Linked DNA regions of Homo sapiens: region 1 is linked to region 2. Evidence: fine-mapped expression QTL. A gene starts in region 2. The other region holds a variant in brackets. All regions are shown on one strand. Distances are between the middles of the regions.

The links.
Region 1: its variant is fine-mapped to the expression of CHIT1 in whole blood (TOPMed, PIP above 0.99).

The regions. Positions count from the first base shown.
Region 1 is chr1:203,117,773-203,120,684 of GRCh38, forward strand. No RefSeq gene overlaps it. Among named protein-coding and RNA genes, the nearest start is that of ADORA1, 8.5 kb to the right of the region's middle. The variant G/A (reference allele first, on the strand shown) is at 1,714.
Region 2 is chr1:203,228,462-203,231,373 of GRCh38, forward strand. It overlaps CHIT1 (chitinase 1), which reads right to left and starts at 1,212. Exons shown (of 11, transcript NM_003465.3): 1 at 1,151-1,212; 2 at 72-101. The coding sequence starts at 1,175.

The DNA.
Region 1 (2,912 bases), 110 kb before region 2:
TCGTCTGTTCTGGCCCATGATGTCGGGTGAAGCATCTCAGCTGAAGCCTTGCGCAGTGCTCCGCCAGGCGCTATAATGCTGAGCCCAGCTATGGCTCCTCCTTCTTCTCCCTTCCGCGGGAACCCAGCACCTAGCGCGGCGGAGCAGGGAACTCAGGCTGCGGGACTGGGGTCTGGCCCTGCCCAGCTCCTCGCCCACGCCCAGGCTTCCGTTAGGCCAGCAGGGGGACCCCGAGCCCCGGACAACAGCCCTGAGCTGGGCGGCTGCTTCTGGCTCTAGATCCCGCTGCTCAGCCGATCCACCTTCCCCACCTCCCTCCCCCCAGCCTCAGTTTCCTCCTCTGAGAAATGGGAAAATGATTATACTTATTTCACCGGCAATGCTATGATAGTTAAATAATTCTAAACCATAAAGCGTTGTGAGACTTCCTTCTTGTACTCTTGAAGTGTATTATTTTGAACATTGAACATTCAGTCAATGTTTCTTGAGCTCTATGCCCCGGGAGCTATTTTAAGCCCTGGATGAAGTCTGTCCAACTCGGGCCGGGGATAGTGATTGAAATAGAAAAGCTCAGTAAGTGAAGGGCTCCTCTGTGTCTCCCACCCCACTTGACGAGCCAGATGGAGTGAGTGGCTTTTAACTGTAGAGTGGACCCCTCTAGCAAGCTGCTGTTTGCTTTTCTGGTGTGGAAGGTAGGACTTTGGGATGAGCCCACAGAGGACCAGGGAGCCCAGGCCATCCACTACCTCTTTATCCCGACCTGAGGAACGTGCACTTAGCGCAAATTCCCTTCCTTCCATGCCCAGTGCTCGCTGGTGACAGGGTTCAGGGCAGAGGGGGTGAGGCAGATCTGAAGGGAATGATTCTAGACTAGCACTTTGAGTTCTGCTTAACATCAGGGAGTTGGGGCCAGGATAAGACTGGAGCTGAGGGAATGGGCTGAAGCCGGAATCAGTGGCCAAGCCTCTGTGACCAGTTCTGATTCCTGAGTATAATGAGTGAATGCCTAGTGTTTCCACACCTGGCTTCCATCGCTGCTGGGAGGGGCTTCACTCAGAGAAATAACTATGAGAATGTGTACATGGTGGGCTCTCCTGCAGGCTCTCAGGGGACCCAGGGATACTGGCTGAGGACAGGGGCCATTTCATCCCAGTTAGCTTTTTACTGAGTGGAGCAAAAACTCGTTCCTTCCATGAAGCCTCTGGCTTCAGTCTCAGCCCTTACACCCCAGGACATGGTCCATGAAGCACCTAGTTAGGACTTCAGAAGGATGAGGTGATGGTTCACGTGGAAGATGTTGCTTTTCAGTTCCTTCTGTTTCGTTCCCTCAGTGGGCTGCAGACTCTCTGAGTGGGCTATTGTGATGAACTGGAAAGAACCTTGGAGTGGAAATCAGGAGGCCTGAGCTCACGTTTCAGCTCCAGCACTCAGTGGTTTCAGGCCTCTCCTTGAGCCTCAGTGTTTTAATCTGGCAAAGGGGAGCATAATAGCTTCCCACCCAGGTGGGGTGATGATACAGGGGATAAATGTGAGAAAGGGCCAGACATGTGTTCTGCCTTTTCTTCTGTCTGTATCTACCCTAGAAAAATGAAAACACATCCTCACACAAAAACCTGTACGTGGGCCAGGTGTGGTGGCTCACGCCTGTAATCCCAGCACTTTGGAAGGCTGAGGTGGGTGGATCACCTGAGGTCAGGAGTTTGAGGCCAGGCT[G/A]GCCAACATCGTGAAACCCCGTCTCTACTAGAAATACAAAAAATTAGCCAGGTGTGGTGGCTCACACCTGTAATCCCAGCTACTCAGGAGGCTCAGGCAGGAGAATCGCTTGAACCTGGGAGGCGGAGGTTGCAGTGAGCCGAGATCACACCATTGCACTCTAGCCTAGGCAACAAGAGTGAAACTTCGTCTCAAAAAAAAAATAAAATAAAAAAACATGTACACGAATGTTCATAGCAGCATTATTCACAATAACCTAAAAGTGGAAACAAGCTAAATGTCCATCAACTGAAGAACGGATAAACAAAATGTGGCTTGTCCACAGGATGGAATACTATTCAGCCTTAAAAAGGAATGAAGTATGGATACATGCCACAGTTCAGATGAACCTTGAAAACATTATGGTAAGTGAAAGAAGCCAGTCACAAAGGACCATGTATCCTATGTATCATATGATTCCATTTATATGAAATGTCCTGAATAGGCAAATCCATGGAGGCAGAAAGTAAATTAGTGGTTGCTAGGGATGGGTGGTGGAGGGAAGGGTTGGGAAGTGACTACTGATGGGTGCAAAGTTTTTTTGGAGGAAAGGTGATGAAAATGTTCTAAAATTAAATGATGGTGATGGTTGTACAATTCCATAAGTAACTCAAACCACTGAATTGTGCACCTTAAATGGGTGAACTTTATATTATGTAAATTGTATCTCAATAAAGCTGTTAAAAGTTTTTAATTGGGTGTCCTGAATTTAGTCTGGCAGCTTCACTTCTGCCCCTCCTTCCTTCTTTTCTCTAGTCTTGACAGCCTTCTTCTCCCTTTTGGAACATATAGAAGATAGTGGGGGTATTTGTCTTTCTTGAGGGACAAGGACACCTCTTGATGGGTGGGGAGGAATAAGGGAGCGATTAGGGAGTCAGATACCAGGCTGCCTCACCTCCAACAGATATCATCATCTCCCCTGCCTCAATTTCCCCTTCTGCCTAGTGAGGGGAGGGGAAACAGAGGATTGCTTGCCTTTGAACCCTTGGAGGTGCTGTCGGAGGAGTCCAGGAAGGTGGGGTGCATTTGCTGGCTGGGATGGGGTGGGCTGCACAGGACAGCATGAGCGCTTATGAGTCACATGGTGGATCTCCCAGACAGTGGTGGGGTGGCAGGCGGATTGCCCAGAGGCACCTCTTTGGCCGCAGACAGGGGCAGAG
Region 2 (2,912 bases):
GGGAAGGTGTTTTGGGACATTAAGCAGAGCCCAGGGAAGGGGCTGAGGCAGCCAAGAAAGAGGCTACTTACCCCATGGGATCATCAGCAGGACCATGAAACCTGGAGCAACACAAGAGAGAAGGCCAGGGTTATGCTGCCATTCTCACCTTCCCAGGCCCCACAGCTTACGGAAGCACAGGAGGTGGTCAGGGAGGGCTGATTTCATACAAATCAAGCTTTCTCCTTTCAGAAGGGACCCAGGAGGGCACTGTGCCCATCCCTTCATGCAGACCAGACCACGGGGGTCTCTTCCTGGCCTGGGTTGGTCCTAGAAGCTGATGGAAAGTTCCATGGGCTGAGGCTGCCCCCTCTCTATACCTCAGTAAAGGGCAGTGTGGATTCAGGAAGATTGTGGAAAAACTGCTGACTTGTGAGTTATTTAGAGAGATAGTTTCTCTTTCGGAACAAGAAACAAGCCTGTTTTGGGGCTAGAAAGAATCAATCTGGAAGGGCTGCATGGAGAGAGTTCATCTCCTGGGGAGGGCCTGTGCCTCTGCTCCCATCGTTTATGGCTTCCTGTTGCCTTTCCGCTACCTGGCTGTGGTAGGCAACCACAGCCTTGGAGACCTAGGGTCTGACAGGACTCCTTCGAAGAGATCTCTTTCACCTGGTGACCTTGGACTTCTCTGTCAACCTAATAGAACCTCCATGAAAATTTGCAAGGATGCCCAGGATCTTGGCCCCAGGCTGCCCTCTTGCAGGACAGACAATATGAGGTTGGAGAAGAGGTTCTTGGCAGTGGGCGCTTCTTGGATAAGGCCAACAGGAGGGACCTAAGAACATGGGAAAGACACAAAGACCCAGTGCAGGGGCCTCATTGACTCTGGGCTTTCAGGACAGAGAGAGGAAAGTCAAGTCATCTTCAGCCTGTTGAGAAAAGCCTTCCCTTGCAACATGAAGTCTCTTGGGCTGAAAGAGCCTAAGGGGGAGCCCACAGGAAAGGTAATCAAGGGACTGCAAGCCAGGAGGCATGGAGAGGGATAAAATGACCCTCTGAAGTTCTCCTGAGTCCTCCTGCTTCCTTGCAAATGGTAGCAAGTGGTCCCTGAACATCCACATCCCCACCTCCCCACAGCTCCCGAGACCCAGCCCACTATCCGACGGCTCACCTGCCCAGGCCACAGACCGCACCATGATGCAGCTCAGCGGCAGGCTGCAGCCCATACAAACCAGCTTTCCAGGTCCTGCTCTGCTTTTATCTGGCCACCCTGTCCCACCCCAGCCAGGAGTGTTGCAATCAGGGGCACTGGGTGGGGGGGATGGGAGCAGGGTGGGGAGGGGTAAGATGTCAAGCAGCATGAATTGGGCAAACTTGACACAATGGCCTTTAGCAATTCTTGCTTTTCTGGAACAATCAGAGGGTGACTCTTAGTGTTGCCAAACAGAGGAAAGCGGGAAGTGGCCCTGAACCTCCTGATGGATGAGCATGACCCTGACTTTCTTTGTGTAGTTGGTGAGGACCATAAGCAGCCCCAGACTTAATAGGGCTTTGGAGGAAGAGAAATGACTCACGAGTCAGGCAGCTGGGTTCCAGACCAGCTCTCTTGCTTCTCCACTGCCCTCTCTCAAACTGTTTCTCCATCTAGAAGATAATGGGGTTGCAAATATAATTTACTTTTCATGATAGTAATAGTTGCATATCCATTGATGGAGAAAAATAGATAATGATAAATAGTGACTATAAGTTTGGTAATGGCTTGAAATGCCTATGTTTCTTATGAAGAATAATAATGGTGGACATTTGGGCCAGGCATGGTGGCTTACACATGTAATTCCAGCACTTTGAGAGGCCGAGGCAGGTAGATCACCTGAGATCAGGAGTTCGAGACCAGCCTAACCAACATGGAGAAACCCCATCTTTACTAAAAATACAAAATTAGCCTGGCATGGTGGCACATGCCTGTAATCCCAGTTACTCGGGAGGCTGAGGCAGGAGAATTGCTTGAACCCAGGAGGCGGAGGTTGTGGTGAGCCGAGATCGCGCCACTGCACTCCAGCCTGGGCAACAAGAGTGAAACTCCATCAAAAAAAAAAAAACAAAAAAAAAAAAACAGAAGAATGGTGGACATTTGTGTCGGTTTCCCAGAGCTTCTGTAACAAATGGCCACCAAACAGGTGATTTGAAACAACAGAAGTTTATTCTTTCACAGTTCTGGAGGTCAGAAGCCTGGAAACAAGGAGTTGGCAGGGCCATGCTTCCTCCGAAGGCTCCAGGGGCGAATACTTCCCAGCAGCTTCCAGCTTCGGATGGCCTGTGGCATTCCTGGGCATGCAACGGCATCGTTCCAGCCTCTGCCTGCCTCCATTTTTACACGCCCTTCCTCGCTGTGTCTCTGTATGTCCCCTCCTTTCTGTCTCTGAGAAGGACATTCTAATCCAAGATGATCTCATCTTGAGATCTTTACCTTCATTACATTTGCAAAGACCCCTATTACAAATACAGTCACCTTCTGAGATTCCAGGTGAAGTTATCCTTTGCGGGGGGTGGGAGGGGGTCACCATTCAATTCACCACAGGACCCAAGTGGGCACATATTACTGTAATGTCTGCAGACAATGTCTGGTGTATGCATGAACTCCAGGGTCCCTGAGAAAGCTCTGCAGTTTCTAGGGGATCCAGTCTTTGGCCGGTGGGCTTAACATGAATGGCCTAGATGGCCACGTGGGAATATTGGGTGCGGCAGGCTGTGGAGTTAGGTTCCTGAGTTTGAATTCCTCCTCTGCCATTTACTATCTGTGTAAACTGAAGTGAGTTCCTTAATTTCCCTGAACTCCAGTTTCTTCATCTGTAAAGGGGAATCCTCAGAGGACTGTTGGGAACGCACTCCATGGTGGCTGCTATTATTCCTGGTTCTGCCAAGTGCTGCCACTT